Regions from separate parts of the Homo sapiens genome. Here regions 1, 3, 4 and 5 are each linked to region 2. Evidence: fine-mapped expression QTL. A gene starts in region 2. Each other region holds a variant in brackets. All regions are shown on one strand. Distances are between the middles of the regions.

What was found. PIP is the estimated chance that this variant, and not a neighbour inherited with it, causes the effect.
Region 1: its variant is fine-mapped to the expression of KPTN in whole blood (TOPMed, PIP above 0.99).
Region 3: its variant is fine-mapped to the expression of KPTN in testis (GTEx, PIP 0.95).
Region 4: its variant is fine-mapped to the expression of KPTN in whole blood (TOPMed, PIP above 0.99). The same link has a PIP of 0.9 or more in fibroblasts, lung, sun-exposed skin and thyroid.
Region 5: its variant is fine-mapped to the expression of KPTN in tibial artery (GTEx, PIP 0.95).

Annotation. Positions count from the first base shown.
Region 1 is chr19:47,724,513-47,730,577 of GRCh38, forward strand. EHD2 (EH domain containing 2) reads left to right here. Exons shown (of 6, transcript NM_014601.4): 4 at 1,300-1,712. LOC124904733 (a long non-coding RNA gene) reads right to left here and starts at 4,999. Exons shown (of 2, transcript XR_007067279.1): 1 at 4,901-4,999; 2 at 4,412-4,609. RefSeq lists an enhancer at 986-1,752. The variant G/A (reference allele first, on the strand shown) is at 3,240.
Region 2 is chr19:47,481,811-47,487,723 of GRCh38, forward strand. It overlaps KPTN (kaptin, actin binding protein), which reads right to left and starts at 2,409. Exons shown (of 12, transcript NM_007059.4): 1 at 2,125-2,409; 2 at 1,692-1,774; 3 at 1,485-1,569; 4 at 1,351-1,405. The coding sequence starts at 2,350. It overlaps NAPA-AS1 (NAPA antisense RNA 1), which reads left to right and starts at 2,472. Exons shown (of 4, transcript NR_038452.1): 1 at 2,472-2,714. NAPA (NSF attachment protein alpha) reads right to left here. Exons shown (of 11, transcript NM_003827.4): 11 at 5,827-5,913. RefSeq lists enhancers at 2,334-2,623, 2,654-2,783.
Region 3 is chr19:47,573,083-47,579,147 of GRCh38, forward strand. ZNF541 (zinc finger protein 541) reads right to left here and starts at 66. Exons shown (of 17, transcript NM_001277075.3): 1 at 1-66. RefSeq lists an enhancer at 4,793-4,872. The variant G/A (reference allele first, on the strand shown) is at 3,451.
Region 4 is chr19:47,542,885-47,548,949 of GRCh38, forward strand. It overlaps ZNF541 (zinc finger protein 541), which reads right to left. Exons shown (of 17, transcript NM_001277075.3): 5 at 1,242-3,096. Among named protein-coding and RNA genes, the nearest start is that of ZNF541, 27 kb to the right of the region's middle. The variant G/A (reference allele first, on the strand shown) is at 2,969.
Region 5 is chr19:47,303,823-47,309,695 of GRCh38, forward strand. It overlaps a transcript of C5AR1 not described here. Among named protein-coding and RNA genes, the nearest start is that of C5AR1, 3.1 kb to the right of the region's middle. The variant C/T (reference allele first, on the strand shown) is at 3,926.

The sequences.
Region 1 (6,065 bases), 240 kb after region 2:
TCTCTGCTCTCCTCAGCATTGCTTGTTGGTGAATAAATGAGTGAAGAAGCAAAGGTGAGAATGAGTGGATGAAGGAGTGAATGAGGAAATGAATGGTGAAAGGAATGAATGAATGAGCATGGGAACCCATGGCTGGGATGGGTGCTTCATAAGAGCAAGAATCTTGTCTGTGTGTTCTCTGCGGTATCCCAGGCTCCCAGGACAGGGCTTGGCACACATGAGACTCTCAGTAAGTATTGCTAAATAAATGCAAAATATTTAACTTCTCAGCCTGGCCAACATGGTGAAACCCCGTCTCTACTAAAAATACAGAAATTAGCCAGGGTGGTGGTGCATGCCTGTAATCCCAGCTACTCGGGAGGCTGAGGCAGGAGAATTGCTTGAACCTGGGAGGTGGAGGTGGAGGTTGCAGTGAGCCACATTCATGCCACTGCACTCCAGCCTGGGCGACAGAGTGAGACTCTGTCTCAAAAAAAAAAAAAAAAAAAAAAAAAAAAAAAAAAAAAATTATCATCTGCTATGGCAAGAGCACAGCTATCCAGCATGAACTCTAGTTGCTGGATCGTGGGGAGATACAACAGGTCCTGGGGAGGAGCTGGGGTGATAGAGGCATGTGGCAGGCTTGGGGGTTCCATAGAAGCACAGGGGGATCTCTTAGCAAACATGTCAGTATTTTTAACAACCTATATGTACATACCGACGCACACCTGTAATAACTGCTTAATGAATGAGCAAATGAAAAAATGGAGGCCGTGAGGCTGGGCGCGGTGGCCCACGCCTGTAATCCCAACATTTTGGAGGCTGAGGCAGGAGGATCAGTTGAGCTCAGGAGTTTGAGACTAGCCCGGCAGCCCGGGTAACATAGTGAGATCCCATCTCTACTCAAAAAAAAAAAAAAAAAAAAAAATTAGCCAGGTGTGGTGATGCGCGCCTGCAGTCCCAGCTACTAGGGAGGCTGAGGTGGGAGGATCACCTGAGCTCCGGGAAGCAGAGGTTGCAGGGAGGCGTGATCCCGCCATTGTGCTCGAGCAAAGGAAAAGGGGGATGATTGCCCCCTGTAGCCAGATGGCTTGAGGGGCTGGGGCCAGAGCGAGGGGGGAAATTCTGGGCACTGGAGAGCCAGAGCAGTAGTGCCCACTGAGGGCCTTGGCTATTTTGCCCAGACAGGATTTGGACAGCCAACAACGTGAACATCTTTACAGTCCAATATGCAAGAGAATGGGATACTACTGAGAATGGCTGGAGGGTGGGGGTCTGATTTCTGCCCCTTGCGCCCCTGTCTCTCCACTCCCACTCCAGGCTACGACTTCCCGGCCGTGCTGCGCTGGTTCGCGGAGCGCGTGGACCTCATCATCCTGCTCTTTGATGCGCACAAGCTGGAGATCTCGGACGAGTTCTCAGAGGCCATCGGCGCGTTGCGGGGCCATGAGGACAAGATCCGCGTGGTGCTCAACAAGGCCGACATGGTGGAGACGCAGCAGCTGATGCGCGTCTACGGCGCGCTCATGTGGGCGCTGGGCAAGGTGGTGGGCACGCCCGAGGTGCTGCGCGTCTACATCGGCTCCTTCTGGTCCCAGCCCCTCCTCGTGCCCGACAACCGGCGCCTCTTCGAGCTGGAGGAGCAGGACCTCTTCCGCGACATCCAGGGCCTGCCCCGGCACGCAGCCTTGCGCAAGCTCAACGACCTGGTGAAGAGGGCCCGGCTGGTGCGAGTGAGTAGTCCTGAGGGCTGGGCGCGCATTCTTGGAGGAGGTTTCCTCGGTCCTCTCCTACCAGTGCTGTGAGTCCCTGACTTATCAGGGCCCAGGTTAGTTAGTTCTCTTGAAGTTGGGTCATTCTGGCACAGAGTGAAGCCGGGAGGAAGAACTGTATGGAGAGACTCATTCCTCTGCCTTTGGATTTCTGTGTCAACTCCGTGTCACCCTGGCTTCTCTGTCCTGGTATTTCTATTTCTTCTTCCTCTTCCTCCTCCTCCTCCTTCTCTTCTTCTTCTTCCTCTTTTTCTTCTTTCTTCTCTCTTTCCTCCTCCTCCTCTTCTTCTCCCTCCTCCTCCTCCTTCTTCTCTTTCTTCCTCCCCTTCCTCCTTCCTTCCTTCCTTCCTCTGTTCCTCTCTCCCTTCCTCCCTCCTCCCTTCCTCCTTCCTTACATCCTCTTTCGTTCCCTCTTCTTCCTTCTTTTTTAAGAGATGGAGTCTCGCTCTCTTGCCCTGGCTGGAATGCAATGATGCAATCACAGCTCACCACAGCCTTGAACTCCTGGGCTCAAGTGATCCTTCCTCCTTAGCCTGCCCCAAGTAGCTGAGACCACAGGCACGTGTCACCACGCCCAGCTAATTTTTTATTTTTTGTAGAGTCGAGGTCTTACTGTGTTGCCCAGGCTGGTCTTGAACTCCTGCCCTCAAGTGATCCTCCCCTTTTGGCCTCCCAAAGTGCTGGGATTGCAGGCATGAGTATGTTGAATTTTTGAACTTCCTATAAAATATAGACAGACAAATACTCATTATTCTACCCTCTTTATTTTTTGATAATTTATAAGATTGTGGTTCAAAGGTTTCCAAGTTCATTGGTTTATTCCACAAATATTTCTTTTTCTTCTTCTTTTCTTTTTTTGAGACGGAGTTTTGCTCTTATTGCCCAGGCTGGAGTGCAATGGCGTGATCTCGGCTCACCACAACCTCCGCCTCCTGAATTCAAGCGATTCTCCTGCCTCAGCCTCCCGAGTAGCTGGGATTACAGGCATTCACCACCATGCCCGGCTAATTGTGTATTTTTAGTAGAGTATTTTTAGTTGGTCAGGCTGGTCTTGAACTCTCAACCTCAGGTGATCCGCTCTCCTTGGCCTCCCAAAGTGCTGGGATTATAGGCGTGAGCCACCGCGCCAGGCCCACAAGTATTTCTGGAATGCTTTCTGTACACATGGTGCTGGGGCTGGGGATGGAGGGAACAGACAAGGTTCCAGCCCTCCTGGGGCTCATCTTTTTTTAAATTTAATTAATTAATTTATTTATAAGCTAGTCAAATTTAGCAGTGGGGGTGGGGAGTTGCATGCCAACTTTACTGACACTAATAAGTTCTGATAACCAAGGCCAGGTGCGGTGGCTCACGCCTGTAATCCCAACACTTTTGGAGGATTGCTTGAGCCCAGGCATTGAAGACCAGCTTGGGCAACATAGTGAGACACCATTTCTATTAAAAAAAAAAAAAAAAGTTCTGATAACCCACTACCATTGGACCAGCCCC[G/A]GGGCTTATCTTTTGATGGAGGGAGACAGAATAAGTAAACAGACATAAAATAACAATGAAGGCTGGGTGCGGTGGCTCACGCCTGTAATCCCAACACTTTGGGAGGCCGAGGGGGGAGCAGATCACTTGAGGTCAGGAGTTCGAGACCAGCCTGGTCAAGATGGTGAAACTGCGTCTCTACTAAAAATACAAAAATTAGCCAGGTGTGGTGGCGGGCACCTGTAATCCCAGCTACTTGGGAGGCTGAGGCATGAGAATCACTTGAACCCGGGAGGCAGAGGTTGCAGTGAGCTGAGATTGTACCACTGCACTCCAGCCTAGGCGACAGAACGAGACTCTGTCTCAAAATAAAAAAAAAAAAAAAGATGAATTTATTACATCTTAGGCGCTTCACAGCACCCGTCTCCCATGACTCTTGTTTGATTGTGGCCACAGATTGTCCCCTTCTCTCACTCCTTTCCTCTGTCCTCATCTCCCATTCCCTTCCCAGCGTCCCCTGCACTTCACGCTGGTGGCCTCAGTCCTGTGCACTTGCTGCTCCCTCTTCCTGGAAACCTCTTCTGCCTTCTTCCCCCTCCCACCTGGCCATCCACAAGGCTCACTCCCTCCTCACCCCTTTCAAGACTCTGCTCAAATGCTCCCTTCTCAGGAAGGCTGTCCATGCCCTCCTTTGAATGAATATAACTTCCCCCATATGCGTCCTTCTTTACCCTAACCCTGTTGTCCTTTCCTTTCCTTTCTTCTCCTCTCCTCTCCTTTCTCTCTTTCTCTGTTTCTCTTTCTCTCTTTCTTTCTCTTTCTCTTTCTTTTTCTTTCTTTCTTTTTTTTTTTTTTTGAGACAGGGTCTCCCTCTGTTGCCCAGGCTGGAGTGCAGTGGTGCGATATCAGCTCACTGCAACCTCCACCTCCCGGGTTCAAGCGATTCTCCTGCCTCAGCCTCCTGAGTAGCTGGGGTTACAGGCGTGTGCCACCACACCCAGCTAATTTTTTGTATTTTTAGTGGAGACGGGGTTTCACCATATTGGTCAGGCTGGTCTCGAACTCCCGACCTCAGGTGATCCGCCCGCCTTGGCCTCCCAAAGTGCTGGGATTACAGGCGTAAGCCACCACACCCAGCCAATCAGGGCTCTTTGAATTCCTTCACTGATTTATCCCCAGTGCCCGGAACAGAATTGGTGCTCTGTAAATATTTATTGAATGAATGACATTGAACAAACAGTTGCATTGAACAAAATCTCCTCTATGCCTGGCCTGGTGTTGGGTGGTGCAGGAGACACAACAGTGACCACGATGGTTCCAGTCCTGTCCTGCTGGGGCTCCCAGTCCTAAATAATGAAGGCAGTTCCAGGGCTCAGTCCTCACTGGGGCTCCTGGAGAGGAGACAGATCCATCCCCAGGCACCGATGACCCAGTGTGGTCAGAGCTGGGGCGGGGTAGCTGGGGCAGGCAGAGAGGGCTTCTTTGGAGGAGAGGGCATCTGAGGGGAAATGTCAGTGTTGAACCCAGTGTAGACAGTGTGCTAACTCAATTAGAGGCTGAGGATGTGGCTGAGATCAGAGGTGGTGTGGGCTGTGTCCGGGAATCTGTGCTTTGTCCCTAGGGCACTGGGGAGCCATGAAAAAGTTCGGAGCAGGGAAAGGAGATAATTAGACTCAAGCTACCTTTTGGAGGGTGGATTCAAGGCAGGAGAGTCTAGGAGCCTGGAGACCAGGCAAAAGGCTTGGAGGTTCCTGGATCAGGACAGGCCTTGGGGAGGGAGAGGAGAAAGGAGAGCGCGGGTTTCAGAGCGATTTTGGATGTCAGATGGAACTTTCTCAGGGGGAGGCTGCCAGGGTGGAGGCGGGGCAGGAAGCTGGGCAGGCAGGGAGGCCAAGAAGGTTCTAGGGGGTGGAGGAGCCTGAGGTGTTGGTTTAAGGAGCAGCGAGAGTGGGTGAGTCAGAGCCCCCACCCCCACCCCAGGAATCCTCCTTCGGAGGGAGCGGCCCACTGTGGACCAGGCTGCCACTCCTGGAACCTTCGGAATTCACCTTGCGCTCCTCTGCCCAGGCGGCTCTGCAGTGTCTCTCTCTCTCTTTTTCTGTCTCTATGTCAGTCTCCTTTCTACCTCTCTCTCAGTCTCTTTCTTCTCCATTTTTACTTTTTCTTTTATTCTAACTCCCTTTCCTTTTCTTTCTCGCTCTGCCTCCTCCTGTCTCTCCATCTCTCCCCCGCTCCGCCGCCGCCCTCTCTCTGTCTTCCTCCTGGTCTTGCTTAGACTCCCCCAGGTTCGTTCCCGCGGGTCCCTTGGCGGGAGCTGGAGCACAAGGCCCAGGGACAGAGGGGTGGGTCCGGGCCAGACACCTGGTGCCCCCGCCGGGCTGGGGGCGGCTCCGGAAACCCAGACAAACCCCGGAGTCAGGGACCCAGCCCCGGCCCAGCCCGCCCTCTCACCTTATCTCTTCCTGGCACCTTCCCCTGCTTCCTCTCTGGAAAAGCCATCAGCGCCCTCCCGCCTACCCTCCTTTGGTCCCTACGGAGCCGCCCTTCGGCCCTGCCCCCTGGCTCCATTGGCCCGCTCTCACAGGCCCCGCCCCCAGCCCGGCCACACCCCTGCCCTGATTGGTCCTTCAGACCATTAGGCACTCCCTCCCCCTCTTCCTGCAGGTTCATCCATGGCTCCCCAGTGCCGTTCAGGACACAGGAGCATGGGATTTAGGGTCCGCTGTGACCAAGGCTCACTGCCCCTCCTTTGCCCCGTGTCGCACCCCCACCCCTGCTCCTCACATATGAGTCCGCCACACTTGGTCGTCACCAACAATAGCCATACTGTTAACCTCCCCTCATGCT
Region 2 (5,913 bases):
CATCTGTGTTCTGGAATGGAATCTGGAACTCTAGAATGGAACCCACACACTTTGGGGTTCTAGCACCTTGGTATTCTAGATGCTCTATGTTCTATCTCCTCGAAAGATGAGAATGTCAGGACTTTATCATTACAGAACCTCAGAAGATTCTGGCTTCTATCGTACTGTAGAATATTCAAATGTTGGAATCTTAGAGCCTACGACTCTAGAAAACTTAGCATCTCTGATCTTGGAATGTCAGACTCTAGAACATTAGAATCTGGGAATTCTAGATGTGCAGAATTCCCAGAATTCACAGGTGCTCCATCAACTCTCTCAGATTATCTAGTTCAGGAATGGCAGTGTGGTGGCCCCTTGGCCATCCGGTCCATGGCCACCTTAAAAGCATGATGCTCCGGCCAGGCGTGGTGGCTCACGCCTGTAATCCCAGCACTTTGGGAGGCCAAGGCGGGCGGATCACCTGAGGTCAGGAGTTCGAGACTAGCCTGGCCAACATGGCAAAAACCTATCTATACTAAAAATACAAAAATTAGCCGGGCATGGTGGTGTGAGCCTGTAATCCTAGCTACTCAGGAGGCTGAGGCAGTAGAATCACTTGAACCAGGGAGGTAGAGGTTGCAGAGATCGAGCCACTGCACTCCAGCCTGGCAACAGAGCGAGCATCTATCTCAAAAAAAAAAAAAAAGAAAGAAAAAAAAAGTGCAATGCTTTAAAAAACAAATGTAGAATCTGATTGTCTATGGACAAGTTCGTGGTCTCCAGTTAGCTACAGCTTTCCAACCTCAGCTGCATATGTGTGTGTGCACATGTGCTCCCTGTTATATTACATTTGTGCTTTCCATTCTCACATGACCTCTCTGGTCCCCAAAGGCATTTTAGTTTAATTTCATTTTATTTTATTTATTTATTTTTGAGACAGAGTTTCGCTCTTGTCACCCAGGTTGGAGTGCTGTGGTGCAATCTTGGCTCACTGCAACCTCCGCCTCCCGGGTTCAAGTGATTCTCCTGCCTCAGCCTCCTGAGTAGGCTGGGATTACAGGCACACACCACCATGCCCAGCTAATTTTTGTATTTTTAGTAGAGACGGGGTTTCGCCATGTTGGCCAGGCTGGTCTCAAACTCCTGACCTCAGGTGATCCGTCTGCCTCAGCCTCTCAAAGTGCTGGGATTACAGGTGTGAGCCACCGTGCCCGGCTGGCATTTTAGTTTTCAATCCCTAATCTAGTACAACCTCTTTATTTTCCAGAAGGGGAAACAGACTACAGGGGTCTGTAAGTAAAGAAGGGGTTCGAGAAGCCAGGGTTTCTACATTTACAGTGGAGTGGGCGTCGATGCGCAGGGGACACTCACTCCGCATGGCACAGCTGGAACGGAGTGAACTGGAGCTCCAGGTTCAGGCAGCTCTCTGTAGGCAGGGCACAGGCAGGTTAGCATGGGGGACCTGCTGGGGACTCTCTCCCTCCTCCCGTCCACGCCTCACTCACGGGCAATAGAGTCAAGGTTGTACTCAGAGCCGGGCTCGTAGTCGCAGTAAATGTTCAGGAAGGGGCTGCCCTTGTCCCCTGAATCCTGGCGGAGGACACGGGGTTCAGGGGAGGGCAGGGGTGGCAGGAGGGATCCGGGGCGGCTCAGTGGAACTCACCATGTGTGTAAGGAGGAGGGCGAAGGGAGGTGGAGGGGGCTCTAGGTACCTTGATGAACGTGATCCCCACAACCAGACCCCGCTTGGGGGGTGACTTGTTGAAAGTGTCGATGGAGACAATCTCCGCATCCACTGGGAGGGGAGAGTTCTAAGTTCAGTGTCAGGCAGACTCATGCTTCCAATCTCCCCAACATGGTGAGCTCTGGCTACCGCAATGATCATGCCCTCTGGTCTGAGTCCTGACCACCATCACCTGATCTCTGTTCCCTGGGTACTAGGGATCCTGACCTGTAAGTCTGAAGAATCCTGAAACCCTAGGCTCATCCGGGCCCCAACTATGCCTGCCCGCTGATCCCAGTGACCCCCTTAAAACCACCTGATCCCATTCTTCCAGCACGGTGACCCGGCTCAGACAGAGCCTCAGAAGCCTTCTCAACACCACGTTCCAGGCCCCCGCCCCCCAGCACCATAGCGCCACCCACCGGGAATGTAGTTGAACTGCAGCTCCTTGGCCACTGGCCGGATTTTCTGTCGGAGGTCTTGGTAGCGGAAGCCGAGCACCTTGCCTTTAAGGGTGGCGGCCAGCAGCTCCCCGCGCCCGCCGGCGCCGCCTGCCAGCCCGTACACATTGCTCTGCGACGAGAAGCGCGTGAAGCTGTCCTCGCGCAACGGACAAGGCCCCGCGGCCACGGCCGCCTCCCCCATCATGCCCCTCAGTTAAGCACCCTCTCCGCAGCCCCCGCCCCAACCCGCACTACCCAACCTACGACTCTCTAAGCGACCTGAACCGCCGGGTGCCCGGCCGTTGCGCGGGCTGATGACGTACGGAAGCTGCCGGCGTTGCCCTCTCCCAAGATGGCGGCCAGGTCGCCTGCTCGGGCCTCCCAGGCGACTTTGCCCCACTGCGCCCGCGCTCTCTTCTCCTTTCCATTTCTGGACCAAGGGGCTGCCATAAGGAGTCTGTGACTAGAGATGGGAGGTGGTGGCCACGGCCTCTCGCTGTATGCTGTGTGGAAGGTCGAATCATCATCATCATAAAACTTAATATTGCCCTTATGTGCCAGGAACTACTGTAAGTGCATTCCATCTAATACTTTATTAAAAATTCGCAAGGGGGTGGAGGTAGGTACTTAAATCCATTTTAGAGATGAAGGAATTGAGGCACAGAGGGGTAAAGTAACTTGCCTAAGATCACACAGCTAGTAACGAGCGGTCAGTACTGGAAACCAAACAAGGTAACTCCACAGTTCACTATTTTTTTTTTTTTTTTTTTTGAGACGGAGTCTTGCTCTGTCACCCTGGAGTGCAGTGGTGCGATCTCGGCTCACTGCAACCTCTGCCTCCTGGGTTCAAGCGATTCTCCTGCCTCAGCCTCCCAGCAGCTGGGATTACAGGCGCCACCACACCTGGCTAGTTTTTCTATTTTTAGTAGAGATGGGGTTTCGCCATGTTGCCCAGGCTGGTCTGGACCTCCTGACCTCAGGTGATCCGCCCACCTCGGCCTCCCAAAGTGCTAGGATTATAGGCGTGAGCCCCCTTGCCCGGCCTATAGTTCATAATCTTAACAGTATCACCTTTAAAATAATTAATACATTCTTCTTGCCCCCAAGGAAAAATGATCCAGCTATAATAACCACCTCCTTTATCGAACACCTACTTGGTGACAGTCATGCTGGCTCTGATAATCTGATTCCTTACAACTGTTCTGCAAGGGCCTACTGTTACCCTCCCTGCCGGTTCACTTATTCAGGATTCATTGAGCTTTTACTATGTGCCCGGACGTCCTTTGCAAATCTGTCTCACTAATCTTTGCAAGAAAGAAACCTCTACAAAGAGGTTTATTATCCCAGTTTAGAGAGAATCAAATGGAGGCTCAGAAAGAGTAAGTCCACTGACTGATATGCTAGCAAGTGGTGGGGACAGGATGTAAACCAGGTGTTTCCGACTCTGGGGCCTTCAGGGGTTCCTGTCTGTGCTGCTTTGTCCCTAGAAGGCCATGGAGGTTTGGGTACTATGTGCACATCTGTGTATCATTTCCAGAAGACATGGGTTGGCCAGCTGTCCTGGACACCTCGAGCACACACAGACTGCAAGCTCCATGAAGGCAGCAGGCTGATCTCCCTTGATCACGGCCTTATCGCCTGTACCTGGAACACAAGGCCTGACACAAAGCAGGCATTCAGAAAATATGTGTCAAAAATCACAAACTATGTGCTGAGCATGTAAGAGACAGCTCTTACATGATGGAAAGTTCTCAAAGGCAGACTGGATAACGGAGGTGGCAAGGAATTTGTGATGATTCCAGATTTCTGGATGTGGAGAGTAGAAGTTCCTGGAGGGCAGTCTGGGAATGCCGTCAGTGCTGCTGTATTCCCAGGGCCTGGCATGCAGCAGGTGCTTAGTGAATATTCGCTGAGGGAGTGGCACGTGGGTCTAGTGCCACTTCAGCAGTGCGTTTCCTTCAGGCGTCTTCCCGCCCTAGTAACCTATAAGCCACATGTTGAGCGGATGAATGAAAAAATGAAGTTACAGGTTAGGAAGGAATCATCCTGTTAAGAGGTTTCCAATCCTAGCTGCACACTTGAACTGCCTATGAAGTTTTAACAAAACAAACCAAAACAGGCCGGGCCTGGTGGCTCATGCCTGTAATTCCAGAACTTTGGAAGCTGAGGCAGGCGGATCAACTGAGGTCAGGAGTTTGAGACCAGCCTGGCCAACATGGTGAAACGCTGTCTCTGCTAAAAATACAAAAATTAGCTGGGCGTGGTGGCGCACGCTTGTAATCCCAGCTACTCGGGAGACTGAGGCAGGAGAATCGCTTGAACCCGGGAGGCAGAGGTTGCAGTGAACCAAGATCGCACCACTGCACTCCAGCCTGGGCGATAGAGCGAGACTCTGTCTCAAAAAAAAAACAAACCCAAAAACCCCCAAAGGGTAGGAAACCTCAGTCAAACCACAATTTATCAGAGTGCGGCCCCAGTCTGGATACTTTTATTTTTGCACCATCATGCCTAATTTTTGTATTTCTAGCAGAGACAGGGTTTTGCCATGTTGGCTAGGCTGCTCTCGAACTCTTGACCTCAAGTGATCCGCCTGCCTCGGCCTCCCAAAGTGCTACGATTACAGGCATGAGCCACAGCACCCAGCCCCAAGTCTGGATACTTTTAATGACTTTAAAGCATAGCCAGGGCGGACCATCACTGATTTAGGTCATGGATGACAGAAACAGATTCTCACACTATCCTTCAGCCAGCACCCATGATGGGGGCAGACATGGTAATCAATTTCAGGTCTCAGAAGTCTTTGCTGCCATTATCAGTGGACTGGAGCTGTGGGAGAAGCTGCAGGGGAGAGAGGAGCAGGGCAGGTGTCAAGGAATTTGAACCTCACCTGCACTTCTCTAGGCTTTCTGGGCTGGAGCCCCTCTCCCAGGAGTCCACCCTGGTTTCCTAGGCAGCCCCTCCTCTGTGCAATTACTGCCCCTGCTCACTTCCTGACATTTTCCCATCATGCCTGGGCACTGAGCCTCCTTCAGCTGTCTCCTCTGTAGCGAGGGGCCCTGCGCGGGGCAGGGTAAAGCACATGTGTACCAGACAGGGCCCCCAACATGCACATTGTGGAGTGTGGTGGAGGCAGCTGGTTTCTGCCCACCTTTCCTGGGCAAAGGCTCCTGCTATCTCCTCCCCCACTCCCCAGACCCACTCGGGCCTCAGACTCTGCCCACCAAAGCCGCTTCCTCCCCCGTCCTGTGACAGATGGAACAACTGTCACCGGGGCGTTCAGCCTTCCTGCCAGAGAAATGTGGACATGGGAGATTCGGTGGGCTTCCACCCATTCTCATCCAAAGCAGTCATGAGGACCGTCACATTCGACCCTCCCACTGGCTCTGAGGGGTGGCATCACCACCGTGCATCCCAGTTGAGGAAATCAAGGCCCCTGGACCCCAAGAACCCAGAGAAAGATCAAGATGGGCGCTCTGGGACTCCCAAGCCAGAGCTCCTCCCCAGGCCCACCGTCCCTGGGTCTCCCCCACCTAGAAACTGACCCAGCCCACACGTGTTTCAAGGATGCATGCGCCTGACCTCCCAAGAGCTCGCCCAGAGTCTGGGGGACCAGGAGTGTGAGAGGGACTGGTGACTGGCCCAGGGGCAGAGTGGGTAGCAGAGGTGAGGAGGAAGAGAGACTCATGCAAAAGTGTTGTTTTTTATTTTCTTTCTTGGGCCAGCTGCAGCTTCCAACCAAGAAAACCTCAAAGCATTAGGGAAGGAGCA
Region 3 (6,065 bases), 91 kb after region 2:
CCGCCCCCGGGGGCTCGCGCGCCGGGCCTCGCGCCTGGCGCCTCGCGGGGCTCCCAGCGGCCTCCCGCCTTCCCCGCGCCGCCCGGGGCGCACGCGCAGCCCGGCCCACCCCCGGATCTCCTCGCTCACGCGCGGCGCAGGCGCGCGTACGTGACCGCGGGCCGCCTCACGCCTCCCAGAGCGGCCTCGCGCGTGCCTCCTGGCCGCGCGCTCTCGGCTGCTTCTCCGAGGGGCGGGGCTTGCCGCGGGCGGGAAAGGAGGCGGTTGGTCGCCATTTTGGGAGGGGGCGGTTGAGGGCGGAGAGTGAGAAGAGTGAGCCGGGGAGGAGCGGCGGGGGGAGGGGCCAGTCCCCCAAGACCCGCATCCCGAGGCCGAGAGTCCCGGGAGCCTCCACTCCAGCCATTGTTCCTGGTGGGCGGTGTTAGAACGCGGTGGCGGCCGCTGGATGGCTGCCCCCAGTCCCCGGAGGGGCCTCTGAGCAGCGTCCTGGTGCTGGGAGGCCGTATCGTCTGTTTCCGAGGACCCTGTCGCGAGCGCGGGAGTCTCTCAGGGTCTCTTCTGCGTCATTGGGTGGGGGAGATGTGGGGCGAGCTGCTCCTCCCTTTTTTTAAAATTTTTTTCAGAGACAGGGTCTCTCCCTGTTCCCCAGGCTGCGATCACGGCTGCCGCACCCTCCCCTTCCTGGGCTCAGGCGATCCTCCTGCCTCAGTCTCTTGAGTAGCAGCGACCACAGGCGGGCGCCGCCACACCTTGCTAATTTTTACATTTTTTTTAGAGATAAGGTCTCGCCATGTTGCCCAGGCTAGCCTGGTTCCCCTGGGCTCAAGCGATCCTCCTGCCTCAGTCTCCCAAAGCATTGGGATTATAGGTGAGAGCCACCGCGCCCAGCCTATTCCTCCCTTCTTTGGGGAAAGGCTGAGCCATCTGGGGCCCCTGCTCCGTGCTGAGCTGTGTTGGGAAGGGCGGTAGGCCCTGGTGCCGACTGGCCAAGGACCATCTTTTTTTTCTTTTTTTTTTTTTTTGAGACAGGGTCTTGTTCTGCCGCCCAGGCTGGAGTTCAGTGGTGCGATCTCGGCTCACTGCAATCTCCGCCTCCCGGGTTAAAGCGATTCTCCTGTCTCAGCCTCCCGAGTAGCTGGGATTACAGGCACGTGCCACCACGCCCGGCTAATTTGTTGTATTTTCAGTAGAGACGGGGTTTCACCATGTTGGCCAGGCTGGTCTTAAATTCCTGACCTCGGGTGATCAGGTGATCCGCCTGCTTCTGCCTCCCAAAGTGCTGGGATTACAGACCTGAGCCACCGTGCCCGACCTGGCCAAGGGGTTTGAACTGTCCTGCAACTGAGGCAGATAATTCATTCCTTAGAAACGGAGTGCTGAAGATCTGTGGAGAATGAGAGCAGATTAGTGGTTGCCCGGGGTGGAAAGGGGCATCGCGGATCTTATCTGGGTAATGGAAATATTCTAAAACTGAGCTATGGGCCAGGCGTGGTGGCTCACGCCTGTAATCCCAGCTCTTTGGGAGGCCAAGGTAGGAGGATCCCTTGAGCCTAGGAGTTTGAGACCAACCTGGGCAACCTAGTGAAACCCTGTCTCTAAAAAAAAAAAAAAAAAAAAATTAACTGGAGATGGTGGCATGCGCCTGTAGTCCCAGCTACTTGGGAGGCTGAGGCAGGAGGATCGCTTGAGCCTGGGAGTCCAAGGCTGCAGTGAGCTATATGATCAGGCCATTGCACCCCAGACTGGGGGATAGAGCGAGACTCTGATGGGGGAAAAAAAGGGTTATGGTGATGGTTGCACAACTCAGTAAATTTCTAAAAATCAGTAAGTATACACTTAAGTGAGTGACTTTTATGTAAATTATACCTCAAAGTTTTTTTTTTTTTTAATTGATTATTGGGGGAGGAAACAGAGGAAAGAAGAGGGCCTGTCATCTTGCTTTAGGATCCCTTCATTTAGCAAGTTTTTATTGGGTCTCTGTTCTAGGTGCTCAGATATAGTGTCTGGGTCAAACAGACATTCCTCTCCTCCTGGAACTTATGTTTTAGAGCAGTGCTGTTCAGTAGTAATAAAATGCAAACTTCAAGCACCAGCCACTTATGTAATTTTACATTTTCTAGTAGCCATGTTTAAAAGGAACAAAATGTAAAGAAGGCAGGTGTGGCGGCTGGCACTTGTAGCCCAGCTACTTGTGAGGCTGAGACAGGAGGATCACTTGAACCCAAGAGTTGGAGACTGCAGTGAGCTATGGCCCTGTCTGTGTAGAGCCACTGCACCAGCCTGGGCAACATAGTGGGACCCATTCTCTTAAAAAAAAAAAAAAATGGCTTGGGACGGGTGTGGTGGTTCACACCTGTAATCTCAACACTTTGAGAGGCTGAGGCAGGAGGATTGCTTGAGTTCAGGAGGTCAAGACCAGCCTGGGCAACACACCCAAACCTAAAAATCAAATAAATAAAAGTAAATAATAAAATAAAAGAGAAAGAAACACAAGTGAAATTAATTTGGTAATATTTAATCCCAAATATTTCAACACATTATCAGTATAAAAACTAAGAGATAATTTACACTTTTGGGGCTGTCTTTAAAACCCCACATATACAGTATTTTACATTCACGGGACATCTCAATTCAGACCAGCCACATTTCCAGGGCTCCATGGAACCTTGTAGCGAGTGGCTCTGGTACTGACAGCATACCTCTACAGGGGGACAAGCAAATGCATTTACTTTTTTTGTTGTATTTTTTTGATACAGGGTCTCACTATGTCACCTAGGCTGAAGTGCATTGTTGTAATCATGCCTCGCTGCATCCTTGACTTCCTGGGCCCAAGCTATTATACCACCTCAGCCTCCTGAGTAGCTGGTACTACAGGCCTGCACCACCACACCCAGCTAATTTTTTGTATTTTTAGTAGAGACAGGGTTTTGCCATGTTGGCCAGGCTGGTTTTGAACTCCTAGGCTCAAGCAGTCTTCCTGCCTTGGCCTCCCAACATGCTGGGATTACAGGAGTGAGCCACCGTGCCTGGCTGCAAATACATTTATAATGCAGTATGTTATACCTTGAAGAAAAACAAAGGAAAGAGGATGGGGTCAGAGGGTATTGTTTTATACAGGTCAGTAAAGGCTTCTCTGGTGAGATTGCATTGAGCAGAGATCTGAAGGAAGTAAGGAAGGGTCCTATGAAAATATCTGGGGGAAGAAGAGAGGGAACAGCACGTGCACAGGCACTGAGGCAGGAAGATGTGGAACCCTTTTGAAAGACAGCAGAGAGGCCAGGCATGGTGGCTTATGCTTGTAATCCCAGCAATTTGGGGGGCCCAGGTAGGCTGATCACTTGAGCCCAGGAGTTCGAGACCAGCCTGGCCAACATGTTGAAACCCCATCTCTACTAAAAATACAAAAAATTATCTGGGCATGGTGGTGCACACCTGTAGTCCCAGCTACTC[G/A]GGAGGCTGAGGCATGAGAATCTCTTGAACCTGGGAGGCAGCGGTTGCAGTGAGCCGAGATCACGCCATTGTGCTCCATCCTTGGTAACAGAGTGAGACTCTGTCTCAAAAAAAAAAAAAAAATCAGAAGAAGAGAGACCAGTGTGGCCAGAACCACGTGAGTGAAGAAACTAGGGGCAGATGGCATAGGGACTTACAGGTCATGCTAAGGCAGGAATTAAACTCCTGGAAACAATTTCAGAGGGTTCTTCCTTTATTTAGCACACTTTTTGTTTTGTGGGGTTTTTTGTTTGTTTCTTTTATTTTCTTTCTTTTTTTCTTTTTTCTTTTTCTTCTTTTTTTTCTTTTGAGACAGAGTCGCGCTCTGTAACCCAGGCTGGAGTGCAGTGGCACCATCTCGGCTCAATGCAACCTCTGTCTCCTGGGTTCAAGTGATTCTCCTGCCTCAGCCTTCTAAGTACCTGGGATTACAGGCTCGTGCCACCACGCCCAGCTAATTTTTTGTATTTTTAGTAGAGACGGGGTTCCACCATGTTAGCCAGGATGGTCTCCATCTCCTGACCTCGTGATCCACCCGCCTCAGCTCCCAAAGTGCTAGGATTACAGGTGAGAGCCACTGTGCCTGGCCTTCTTTTCTTTTTCTTGTTTTCTTTTTTTTTTTCGCTTATTTAGCACACATTTTAAAAATGCTTTGTTTCAGCCATGTAATCTCTCTTCTTGATGGAGGAAATAAGGATCCTAGCCACTGGACAGATGAGAATCTAGTTAAAAAACAGGACTTAAGCTCCTGAAATAAATTAGCATCTTCTGTCATTGATAGACATTGAACACTTCATGGACACAGAAGATAAATGCAACACATAAACAAAAAATTAGCATTAGCCAAGCATGCTTGTAATCCCAGCACTTTGGGAGGCCAAGGCAGGTGGATCACCTGAGGTCAGGAGTTCGAGACCAGCCTGGCCAACATGGTGAAACGTCCATCTCCACTAAAAATACAAAACTTAGCCAGGTGTGCTGGTGCGTGCCTGTAATCCCAGCTACGCAGGAAGTTGAGACAGGAGAATTGCTTGAACCTGGGAGGTTGAGTCTGCAGTGAGCCGAGATCGCACCATTGCACTCCAGGCTGGGCAACAGAGCGAGACTCTGTCTCAAATAAAAAAAAGCATTTAGCATTTATTTTAAAGGCCTACAAATTAAGGTGACAACCTAATAAAAAAAAAGAATATAAGATTTGAAGAGGCACTTCATACAAGAGGAAACATGAAGTGAGGACTAACCACAACAACAAGAGAATGCAAATTAAAACCAAAGATACCGCAGCACACCTACCACTTCGGTGAATCAAAAAACATTTTTTTTTTTCTGTTTGCTGAAGCAAGACGAACTGAGTATACAGGACTAGTGACAGGTAAAATTGGTAGAACCACACTGACAAACCCAGGGGTTAACTCTAGAAAACTTCTTGATCATGTGCGCCAAGAGATGCAACAGAAGAACAAGCAGCAATGTTTGTAATAGCAAAAAAAAGAACAGAAAAGAAAGGAAAGAAACAGATTGGATCCTGGATTCTGGATTGAATAATCCTGGAACAAGATAAATAAATAAATAAATAAATAGGCCAGGCATGGTGGCTCACGCCTGTAATCCCAGCCCTGTGGGAGGCCGAGGCAGGTGGATAACTTGAGGTCGAGAATTTGAGACCATCCTGGTCAACATGGTGAAACCCCATCTCTACTAAAAATATAAAAATTAGCTGGGCATGGTGGTAGGCACCTGTAATCCAGCTAAGGCTTAGGAGGCTGAGGCAGGAGAATCGCTTGAATTTGGGAGGTGGAAGTTGCTGTCAGTGAGCTGAGATGGTGCCACTGCACTCCAGCCTGGGAAACAGAGTGACAGTGACTTCATCTAAAAAAAAAAAAAAAGACATTACTTAAAAAACTAGAGAAATCTCCAACAAAGGCCAGGCATCTGTAATTCCAGCACTTTGGGACCCCAAGGCAGGAGGATCACTTGAGCTCAGGAGTTCAAGACCACCCTGGGCAACTTGGTGAGATCCTGTCTCTACGAAAAAATTTTAAAAGTTACCCAAGCATAGTAGCACACACCTGTGGTCCCAGCTACTCCACAGGCTAAGGCGAGAGGATTGCTTTAGCTCAGGACTGCATTCCTATCTGGTTAACAGAGCAAGACTGTCTCAAAAAAAAAAAAGAAAAAATCTCAACAAAGATTGGAATTTAGTTAATAGTAATGTATCCACTTTTTGGGGTTTTTTTTTTTTTTTGAGACAGAGTCTCGCTCTGTCGCCCAGGCTGGAGTGCAGTGGCGCAATCTCAGCTTGCTGTAAGCTCCGCCTCCCGGGTTCACGCCATTCTCCTGCCTCAGCCTCCCGAGTAGCTGGGACTACAGGCGCCCGACACCACGCCCAGCTAATTTTTGTATTTTTAGTAGATGGGGTTTCACCGTGTTAGTCAAGATGGTCTCGATCTCCTGACCTCGTGATCTGCCGGCCTCGGCCTCCCAAATGCTGGGATTACAGGCGTGAGCCACCACGCCCAGCCTTTTTTTTTTTTGAGATGGAGTCTGGCTCTGTCTCCCAGGCTGCAGTGCAATAG
Region 4 (6,065 bases), 61 kb after region 2:
AATGAGCTGAGATAGCACCACTGCATTCCAGCCTGGGCGACAGAGTGAGACTCCATCATAAATAAATAAATAAAATAAATTTAAAAAATAAAATAAAGTGGTGGATTTGGCTGGGCATGGTGGCTCATGCCTGTAATCCCAACACTTTAGGAGGCCGAGATGAGAGGATTGCTTGAGCCCAGGGGTTCAAGACCAGGCTGGGCAACATAGCGAGACCCCCTCCATCTCTAAAAAATATATAAAAAATAAAATGGTGCATTATTTGGCACCTGAATAATAAAGATGTTAACAAAACAAAAATGAGGTAGCTGTGGTATGATGGGAAGCTACTCATCCTCCTGAGTAGCTGGGACCACAGGCGTGCACCACCATGCCCAACTAATTTTTTTTAAATTTTGGTAGAGACAGGGTTTCGCCATGTTGCCCAGGTTGGACATGGAGTCAGGAGACCTGGATGAGCTCTTTGGACCAGGCCCTCCAAACACAACATCTGGAGGAACCAGTGAATAATTATCAATGTGCTTAAGTGTGGGGCACGATGCAGGTGCCCACTTGTGCTTGTGGAAACCAAGACTCACAATCAGAAAACACATGGCCATTTCAAGCAGGAATCTTTAAAGGAAAGAGAGCATCTACCTTCATATCCTCTGAAGATTCTAAAAAGGCAAATCCAAAGGGAAACAAGAGAAAAAAAAAAGCAAAAAAGGCTTTGTGAGATAACAGTGTTTTGAACAACTCTGGGATATCCTCATGTTGATCTTTTTTTTTTTTTTTAAGACAGGGTCTTGCTCTGTTGCCCAGGCTGGAGTGCAGAGACACAATCTCAGCTCACTGAAACCTCCATCTTCCAGGTTCAAGCGATTCTCCCCCACCTCAGCCTCTCGAGTAGCTGGGACCACAGGCGTGTGCCACCACGCCCAGCTACTTTTTTAAAATTTTGGTAGAGACTGGGTTTCGCCATGTTGCCTAGGCTGATCTCGAACTCCTGAGCTCAAGCAGTCTCCCCACTTCAGCCTCCCATCCCAAAGGGCTGGGATTACAGGCATAAGCCACCTCACCTGGCCTCATTCTGGTCTTTTTTTTTTTAGTGGGGAAAACCACAATCTTTCGGAACCTTAATTCCTTCCTCTGTAAAATTGCATCTGGGGACTCTCTGAAATGAAATAAAATGCCTGGACAACTAACAAATGCAAAGGAAACTCACTCCACTCTGGTCAGGCCACGTGAGAGAGAGCTGGTACCTGGATTCTGCTGAATATTGTCAGCTTGGACTTGGAGGGATCTGCCGGGGGCCCGGCCGATGAGAAGGAGGCCATGGCTACCTGGCTCGGAGAAGCCGCACAGCACATATCCATCTTCGCCTTCTCTTTCCGGAAGCCGGAGAATCGCGGGGCCCTGGGGTTGCCCAAGAGCCGGTAGCCTCCACCCCGGGAGCAGGCTGGGCCCTTTTCACCTTTTGTGATCCTTGAAGCCGCGCCATTCTCGGCTGGGGCCTGCTTCCCTGGCAGCGAGGCTCCTGGTGGCTCCTCCCCACCTAACTGGGTCTGCCGTTGGCCTGTGGAGGGGAAGATGTCCTCCAGGTCCAAGGTCCCTTTAGAGGATCGCAGCTGCTTGGCCAGAGAAGAGATGTCTGGATTCCTGGAAGGGTCCAGAGACGGTGCTGCAAGGGGCGTTGGAACCGCGGCCACTTTCAGTCCCCCCTTTGCGTCTCGTCTCGTGCTGCCGGGGGAGGCCTCTCTGGGAACCCCGGGTGTGGTTTTTCTCCTGCGGGCTGGGGAGCCCTCTGCCTCGGGGTTTCCAGGGCCGGCGTGGAGAGAGTCCACAGCAGGAGCCAGTGGTGGGGGCTGCTGCGGCCACGGCCCCTGCAGCGGCCTCAGGGCGGCTGGTTTGCCCTCGGGCGCAGGGAGCTGGGAGGAGACTGCTGCCACCTGGGCATGGGAGAAGATCCGCTGGGACTTGGTGATCATCTGGAACACCTGCATCTGCTCGTGGCTCACAAGAGGTTCCTGCGACTTGAGGAAGAGCTGGCGGAAGAGCGGCGAGGCATCCGCAGGGAGCCCGCCTGCCTTCTGGGCCTCCTGGAGGCCGGGCTCCCCGGGGTTCTGGCACAGGAAGGAGTCGCAGTCGACCTTGACCTTCTTGGGGGCGCAGGGGTCATCTTCCCCGCTGGCCGACCTGGGGTCGCTCGGGGCCTCCGCGGGGACCCTGAGGAGCGCGGCAGGGAAGGGCAGAGCATCCTCCAGGCCACCGCCGGGGCCGGGCGGGGACTCCTCCGAGGGGCTTCCGCTGCTGGGTCCCGGGCCAGACTCGGAGCCCTCCCGCGAGGGCACGGCCGAGGGCTTGTGGACAACAAACACGTTGTTGCCTTTGCTTTTGGGACAGCCCGGCAGGTTCCGGAGCCACTGGAAGCTGTGGCTCGATGGCTGGGAACTGGCAGGGACCGTCTGGCCTCGGAAGAGAGGCAGGCAGGCAGGCACGGAGCCGCCTTCGGGCCAGCACTCCGCGGTGGACCGGGCCTGGAGCAGCGCGGTATCTGGCTCCGGCTCTGGCGGGTCGGGGGCGCCGTTCTCGGCGGCCCTGGAATTAGGGGCTGTGAACACGTCAGTGGCCGGCTCTTTCTGTGGGAGGCAAGGCTCCTCGGGAAGCTCGGTGTCCAGCGCTGCTGGGGCCGCGTGGGGGCCGGCTGGGGTGCAGGACGAGGACCCCGATGAGGCGGGGCAGGGACAGGCAGTGTTCCTCCCTTCGCTGTCTGAAGCCCCCGCCGGGGCTGGGCCAGGAGAAGGGGTCTTCTGGTGGACGATGCTACTCACGATGCGGCGCAGGAGGTCCCGGTGGGGCAGGAGGGAGCCGGGGGACCTGGCCTCTGGGGGCACCAGGGACCGCAGGCTGCTGGGGGGCGGCTGGCCGGCCGACTCGTGGGCGTGGGGGGAGTCCCCGCAGGCCTCTTCCTCCGGGGGGGCTTCCTTCA[G/A]GATGCACAGGCCGTGATGGACCTCGTAGTGCCGGCGCAGAGAGCGGTAGTCGCAGTAGCTCTTGCTGCAGCCCTGCTCGATGCACACGAAGGGCTTTGTCTTCTGGTGGGTGAGCATGTGCCCGGTCCTGGAGCCAGACACAAGCAGGGGCGTCACCGGGGCACCTGGGACCGGGCTTTCTGCTGTAGGACCCTGGTGGCCCCCAAAAGTCTGTGGTACAGTTGCACCACAATTCAGAAATTGTACTCAGCCCCCACGAGGAAAGACCACCCAGCAAACCCTGCTTCGGTCAAAGCCATCTGGCAGGGGAGTTCCTCTCCCCTCACCTTTAAGCAAACCCCTTACAGAAAAGTAAAAAAAAAAAAAAAAACCAGCGGGGCACAGTGGCTCATGCCTGTAATCCCAGCACTTTGGGAGGCCGAGGTGAGTGGATCACTTGAGGTCAGGAGTTTGAGACCAGCCTGGCCAACATGGTAAAACCCGTCTCTACTAAAAATACAAAAAATTTAGCTGGGTGTAGTGGCACATGCCAGTAATCCCAGCTACTGGGGAAGCTGAGGCAAGAGAATCACTTGTACCCAGGAGATGAAGTGCATTGCAGTGAGCCGAGATCACACCACTGCACTCCAGCCTGGGTGACAGAGTGAGACTCTATCTCAATAAACAAACAAACAAATAAATAAAATTTTAAAAAATACAAAAAAAAAAATCCACTGAGGCCAGATCAGATTTCCCCAGAGTGGGTTCCCAAGGAACACAAAGACCTCCAGAGTTGCTCCTCAAGGACTTTGGCACAGCTAATAAATAAGTTTTGAAAAAACACCATTCACTCCTTGGAGGTTCACGATGCACAGTAGCAAATTTAATTAATTAATTTTTTGTTTTTGAGACGGAGTCTTGCTCTGTCACCCAGGCTGGAGTGCAATGGCACGATCTCGGCTCACTGCAACTCTGCCCCCCAGGTTCAAGCGATTCTTGTGCCTCAGCCTCCAAGTAGCTGGGACTACAGGTGCGTGCCACCACGCCCAGCTAATTTTTGTATTTTTAGTAGAGACGGGGTTTTGCCTTGTTGGCCAAGCTGGTCTCGAACTCCTGACCCTCAAGTGATCTGCCTGCCTTGGCCTCCCAAAGTGCTGAGATTACAGGCGTGAGCCACTGTAGCCGGCACACAGTAGCAAATGTAAAAGCCACACAGAGAGAGACCTGTTTAACTTTCAGTGTCTCTCAAACTTATTTGCCCAGAGAACTGTTTTTGGTTTTGTTTTCAAAAAGCCCCTATTAGCATTCCTGAGAACCAGAATTCTGCAGAATAGACTGGAGGAGATGCTAACTTGGGGACGATCCTTCCTTTAACAAAGGAATCTGTGCCTTACCGTAGGAGACCCCTAAGAAGATGCTACCTGGAACCCCCCACAGCAAAGAAGCCAATTTACAGAGGCCCAATCCATAGAAACATTATAGAGCCAAACAGCCAAATGTGCCTATAGTTTCTGCAAACAGAAATGCATGTAAATATGTATTGCATCACACCTACCTCTGCATTAACACATTATAAATATAAGCAGAGGAGTACATCACCCTCTGGGCCCCCAACAGCCCTGCTCTGGACAGTCCTAGTCGATGTGGACTAAATCATAAAGTCTTTCCCCAAAGGCTCACCCTCAGCCTCTGTCTGAGGGAAGCAACAGAGAGGGAATCAGGAGACCTAAGTTCTACCCCCAGCTATTACCAACTTGTGACATGAGCAAATTGGCTCCTTTTCCTGGGGTAGGTGTGGGTGAGAGGATAAGATGAAAGATGGATTAGTCAAAGCCCCTTGTGAAAGGGAGGAGCCCCATAAGAATGCTAAGTACTTTCATCTCCCACTTGCAGGTCTCCTGGTTTGAAAAACATGTGTCTTTCTTTCCCCCACAGGCAAGACAAGCTTATCATTTCCAAGACATTAAGCGGTGGCTCACACCTGTAATCCCAGCACTTTGGGGAGGCCGAGTCACGCAGATCACTTGAGAAATCCTGTCTCTACTAAAAATACAAAAATTAGCCAGGCATGATAGTGCATGCCTGTAGTCCTAGCTACTCAAGATGAGGAGGCAGGAAAATCACTTGAACCCAGGAGGCAGAGGCTTGCAGTGAGCTGAGATCACACCTCTGCACTCCAGCCTGAGTGACAGAGCAAGACTGTCCAAAAAAAAAAAAAAAGGAAATTTTGCTCCTGACACTTTTTAAGTCAAAAGTTAAAAGGAAAAGAATGAGTTTTTTAAAAAAGAAAAAAAAACAAAAAAAAAAATAGAAAAGAAAAACAAAGCTGGGGCCGGGTGCGGTGGCTCACGCTTGTAATCCCAGCACTTTGGGAGGCTGAGGCAGGTGGATCACAAGGTCAGGAGTTTGAGACCAGCCTGGCCAATATGGTGAAACCCCATCTCTACTAAAAATACAAAAATTAGCTGGGCGGGGTGGCATGCGCCTGTAGTCCCAGCTGCTCTGGAGGCTGAGGCAGGAGAATCGCTTGAACCTGGGAGGTGAAGGTTGTAGTGAGCCGAGATCGTGCCACTGCACTCCAGCCTGGGTGACAGAGCAAGACTCCATCTCAAAAAAAAAAAAAAAAAAAGAAAAAAAAAGAAAAACAAGGGTTAATTCTCCATTGCCATGTTCTAGAAGCAGGCGTCTCATCTTTCCTGTCTCGTGCTATCCCAAAACACAGAGAACACAGATCCGTTTTCCTCAGACACCTACCAGAGACTCAGGACATAGCTCTATAAAGTTAGCCCAACTCCTCCCATGACACAATTGACTCAGAAGCCAGCTGTTAGGCGTTTTTAACCCACAAGCAGCCCATCTGCAAACAGAAGCAGGGGCTTCCTCACAGGCGTGAATTTAGGGGCTGGGACAGCAGCGCCCACTCTCTTCCCTGCGCTCTGATGGTGTGAGAAGAACGGAGTGGGCTGGGCACGGTGGCTCACACCTGTAATCCCAGAACTTTGGGAGGCCAAGGCGGGAGGATCACTTGAGGTCAGGAGTTCAAGATCAGCCTGGCCAACATGGTGAAACCCTGTCTCTACTAAAAATAATACAAAAATTAGCTGGGTGTGGTGGCGG
Region 5 (5,873 bases), 180 kb before region 2:
CAAAAAAAAAAAAAAAAAATTAGCCGGGCGTGGTGGCTGGGCGCCTATAATCCAAGCTACTTGGGAGACTGAGGCAGGAGAATCTCTTGAACTTGAGTGGCGGAGGTTGCAGTGAGCCGAGATTGTGCCACTGGACTCCAGCCTGGGCGACAAATTGAGACTCTGTCTCAGAAAAAAAAAAAAAAGTTATTGGAACAACTGGTGAAATTTCAGTGAGGGCTGAGTATAGTGTGGTATCAGTGGCATATTTCCTTATTTTGATAAATATATTGTGGTTATGTCAGAGAATATCCTGTCATAACCGCAATATAAGAGATACACAGTAACAAATTTATGGTAAAGGAGCATGATGTTTCCAAAGTACTCTCAAATGATTCCAGGAAAAACATAAGTAGACATAGATATATACGCCTGTATTATTTTTCTAGGGTTTACCAGCCCCCACAATTGCATGAGCCAATTTCTTTTTTTCTGTGTGTGTGTGACAAAGTTTCGCCCTTGTCACTCAAGGCTGGAGTGCAATGGCACGATCTCGGCTGACTGCAACCTCCACCTCCCGAGTTCAAGTGATTCTTCTCCCTCAGCCTCCCAAGTAGCTGGGATTACAGGTGCCCACCACCACACCTGGCTAATTTTTTGTATTCTTAGTAGAGATGGGGTTTCACCATGTTGGCCAGGCTGGTCTTGAACTCCTGACTTTCAGGTGATCCACCCGCCTTAGCCTCCCAAAGTGCTGGGATTACAGGCGTCAGCCACCGTGCCCGGCCTCTGTCTTTTTTTTTTTTTTTTTTTCGAGACAGGGTCTTGCTCTTTTGTCCAGGTTGCAGTGCAGTGGCACAATCATAGGTCACTGCAGCCTCGACCTCCTGGGCTCAGGTGATCCTCCTGCCTCTGCCTCCTAAGTAGCTAGGACTATAGGTGTGCTCCACCACACCTGGATAATTTTTTGTGTTTTGTAGAGATGGGGGTTTCACTATGTTACTTAGGCTGGTCTGGAACTCCTGGACTCCAGTGATCTTCCCACCATGGCCTCCCAAAATGCTAGGATTACAGGCATGAGCCATTGCTTCTGGCCCCAATTGCTTTCTTTTTCTTTCTTTCTTTTTTTTTTTTTTTGAGGCAGAGTCTCACTTTGTCGCCCAGGCTGGAGTGCAGTGGTATGATCTCGGTTCACTGCAACCTCTTCCTCCTGAGTTCAAGTGATTCTCCTGCCTCAGCCTCCCAAGTAGCTGGGACTACAGGTGCCTGCCACCATTCCCAGCTACTTTTTTGTATTTTTATTAAAGACGGGGTTTCACAATGTTGGTCAGCCTGGTCTCGAACTCTTTACCTCAAGTGATCTTCCCTCCTCGGCTTCCCAAAGTGCTGGGATTACAGGCGGGAGCCAACGCACCCGGCCGCTTTTACTATTCTTGCAACTTTTTTCATTTGACATTCCATCGAAATAAAAAGTTAAAAAAATTCTTTTTCTTCTGAGGGGGTGTTTTATCAAGGACACCTTTATCAAGGGTCCCGGGCCTAAAAATGTTAAGAACCCATGATTTACGGCTGAGGAGGCAACTTCCATCCAAAATCCTAAAAGTCAAGTTCCTGTGACCTGGCTTCCTGAACCTCCCCGCTCCTGCGCCCCCTGGAGGTCAGGGCTAGAACAACACGGCATTCCTATAATGCTCCAAATCGCCACAAATCGACCTTGGAAATCCTGGGTGAGTAACGCAGACTGCGCACATGGCTTCAATTAGCGGAACTAAAACTTGCTGAACATCGTGTACCCGCGTGTCCATGGCCAAACACAAACTCCACCTTTGTAAAAGTCTAGGTGAATTCCCAGCTGAATTCAGAAGCGTGACAGGAATGGGACTTTTCATTGGTGTCTTTTTCTTTTTTCTATTTTTAGAGTGGGGAGGAGTGTATTTCTGGATTGTTTAAATATTTACAATGAGCATGCATTTCCTTTGCAATTAAAAGAAAACCAGATTTTTTTTTTTTTTTTTTTGAGGCAGAATGTTGCTCTGTCCCCAGGCTGGAGTGCAGTGGCGCGATCTCGGCTCACTGCAACCTCTGCCTCCCGTGTTCAAGCAATTCTCCTGCCTCAGCCTCCTGAGTAGCTGGGACTACAAGTGCCCGCCACCACGCCCAGCTAATTTTTGTATTTTTAGTAGAGACGGGGTTTCACCATGTTAGCCAGGATAGTCTCAATCTCTTGAACTGGTGATCTGCCTGCCTCGGCTTCCCAAAGTGCTGGGATTACAGGCATGAGGACCGCACCCGGCCGAAAACCAGATTTTTAAAAATTGAAGTTTGCTGTAGAAAAATACTGTGGGAGAAAGTTGTGGGTGGTGTTTTGTAGAGTCGCAGAAGGACATGGGAAAAAAAAATTGAGTGTGTTTCTGTAATCATCATAACAATCACACTCATTGTGCCGTAGGCTCCAAGGGAGGGCTCTGAGCTGTGGTTACCAGATAAAATACAAGATTCTCAGGTAAAATGTGAAAAAAAAAATATTTTTGTGATCTTAACTCACTGCAGTCTTGATCTCCTGGGCTGAAGTGATCCTCCTGCCTCAGCCTCCCAGGTAGCTGGGACCACAGGCACGTGCCACCATGCCCAGCTAATTTTTAATTTATTTTGTTGAGATGGGATCTCACTATGTTGCCCAGGCTGCTCTCAAACTCCTGGCCTCAAGCGATCTTTCCTCGGTGTCCCCATGCCCTGGGATTACAGGTATGAAGCACCAGGCCCAACCCTGAAATTTAAAGTTAACTGGGCAGTCTGTAATGTGTTTTTGTTTGTGTAGGTGTGTGTGCTAAATCAGGCAACCCCCTATTCTGAGCAGAGGAGTGCTTTGATCTGACTTAGATTTTAATAGGCTCCCTCTGGTTGCTGGTGGAGATGAGACTACGGAGGGGGGGCAGTGAAGATCCCAGAGAGGAGGCTGCTGTAATGGTCCAAGCAGAAGGTGATAGTGATTTGGATCAGGGTAACAGAGCCGAGGTGGTGAGAGGTTGACAGGTCATGCATCTATTTCGAAGGAAAGGCCATGTCCAGGCTCCTTAGCTCGGCATTCAAGGCTTCTCTCCACCACTGGACACACTTACTCTCTAGCTTCTCAGACCCTGTTGCAGATAGAATCATGATCCCCAATGATGTCCACATCTTAATCCCCTGAACCTGTGAACAGGTGACCTTCCATGGCAAAAGGGACTTTGCAGATAGGATGAAGTTAAAGATCTTTAGATGGGGGAGCGATTATCCTGGATTGGGTCTGGGTGGGCTCAGTGGAATCACAAGAGTCCTTATATGAGGAAGATAGAAATTTGAGACATACGGTAGAGGAGGAGGTGATGAGACCACAGAGGCAGGGACGGGCGTGGTGCAACCACAAGCCAAGGAATTTCAGGAGCCACCTGAAGGTGGGAGAGGCAAGGAACAGATTCTCCCCTGGAACCTCTGGAGGGAGTGGTGACATCTTGATTTTGGACTTCTGGCCTGCAGAACCATGCCAAAATAATTGTCTGGCTTTTTTTTTCTTTTTTTTTCCTTGAGGTGGAGTCTTGCTTTGTCGCCCAGGCTGGAGTGCAGTGGTGCCATCTTGGCTCACTGCAACCTCCACCTCCCGGGTTCAAGTAATTCTTGTGCCTCAGCCTCCCGAGTAGCTGGGACTACAGGCATGCACCACCACACCCAGGTAATTTATGTATTTTTAGTAGAGATGGGGTTTTGCCATGTTGGCCAGGCTGGTCTTGAACTCTTGACCTCAATGATCTGCCCGCCTCAGCCTCCCAAAGTGCTGGGATTGCAGGCATGAGCCACTGCGCCCGGTCCTGGTGTTAAGCCCGCAGTTTGTGCTAATTGGTTACAGCAGCCTCGGGAAGGTAATCTAGGCTCCTTCCTTGCCCCAGGCTCTAGGAAGTATCTTAGCCCC[C/T]AGCCCTGGGCTGCAGACCTGTACCAGTCCATGGCCTGCTAGGAACCATGCAGCATCGCAGGAGGTGAGTGGCAGGTGAGTAAGTGAAGCTTCATCTGTATTTATAGCCACGCCCCTTCGCTCATATTACCGCCTGATCTGTCAGATCAGGGGCGGAATTACATTCTCATAAGAGCGTGAACCCAGGCCGGGCGCAGTGGCTCAAGCCTGTAATCCCAGCATTTTGGGAGGCTGAGGCGGGTGGATCACGAGGTCAGGAGTTCGAGATCAGCCTGGCCAAGATGGTGAAACCACGTCTCTACTAAAAATACAAAAATTAGCCGGGTGCAGTGGTAGGCACCTGTAGTCCCAGCTACTCGGGAGGCTGAGGCAGGAGAATCGCTTGAACCTGGGAGGCGGAGGTTGCAGTGTGCCGAGATCGTGCCACTGCACTCTAGCCTGGGTGAGAGAGTGAGACTCCATCTCAAAAAAAAAAAAAAAAAAAAAAAGAGCATGAACCCTGTTGTGAACAGCGCATGTGAGGGATCTGGGTTGCAAGCTCCTTATGAGAATCTAATGCCTGATGATCTGTCACTGTATCCCATCACCCCCAGATAGGACCATCTCGTTACAGGAAAACAAGCTCAGGGATTCCACTGATTCTACATTATGTTGAATTGTATAATTATTTCATTATATATTACAATGTAACAATAATAGATGGAGATGGTTGTGGCTTGTGTAGTTGGGGGACAGGGTAGCTCCATTTTCTATTGCCAACTTTATAACCCTAGAAGGATGATTTTTTTCTTTTCTTTTCTTTTTCTTTTCTTTTTTTTTTTTTTGAGATTGAGTCTTGGTGTTGTCAGCCTGGGCTGGAGTGCAATGGTGCAATCTCTGCTCACTGCAACCTCCGCCTCCTGGGTTCCAGCAATTCTCCTGCCTCAGCCTTCTGAGTAGCTGAGATTACAGGCACCCACCACCACGCCTGGCTAATTTTTGTATTTTTAGTAGAGATGGGGTTTCACCATATTGGCCAGGCTGGTGACGATGGTTTTTTTTTTTTGAGACAGAGTCTTGCTTTGTTGCCCAGGCTGGAGTGCAGTGGCGCAATCTTGGCTCACTGCAACCTCTGCCTCCCAGGTTTAAGCAATTCTCCTGCCTCAGCTTCCCAAGTAGCTGGGATTACAGGCACCTGCCACCACACCTGGGTAATTTTTGTATTTTTAGTAGAGACAGGGTTTCACCATGTTGGCCAGACTCGTCTTGAACTCCTGACCTCAAGTGATTCATTTGCCTCAGCCTCCCAAAGTGCTGGGATTATAGGTGTGAGCCATTGCACCTGGCCCTAGAAGGAAGATTTAACAGTAAAATATACTTAAATGCTGGGCTACCTCCGCAGACTAGCTCAGCCTCTTTGGGTCTCAAATCAGCCTGGCCGGGAGGCTGAGTGGAGGTTACAGTCTCTGCTTTCTTGAATCCCAAGGGAGGGGTTTAAGCCAACTGCATTCCTGAGCTTTTGCCCAGAAGGCTGGCGTCTTAGGAGGAAAGAGATAGATGGCTCCAGGCCGGGCGCAGTGGCTCACACTTGTAATTCTAGCACTTTGGGAGGTTGAGGTGGGTGATTGCCTGAGCTCAGGAGTTTGAGTCCAGCCTGGCCAACATGGCGAAACCCCGTCTTTACTAAAAATACAAAAAATTAGCCGGGGGTGGTGACACACACGTGTAATCCCAGCTACTCGGGAGGCTGAGGCAGGAGAAGTGCTTGAACCCAGGAGGCAGAGGTTACAGAGAGCCGAGATTGCACCACTCCACTGCAGCCTGGGCGACACAGCAAGACTCTATCAAAAAAAAAAAAAAAAAAATGAGAGAGAAGAGATGGCCCCAAATAGGGAAACCAAGGCCAGGAGAGGGGCCGAGCCTGCACAGGAGCTTCCTCGGTTTTCCGAGCGCCGGCCCCCCTTCTCTG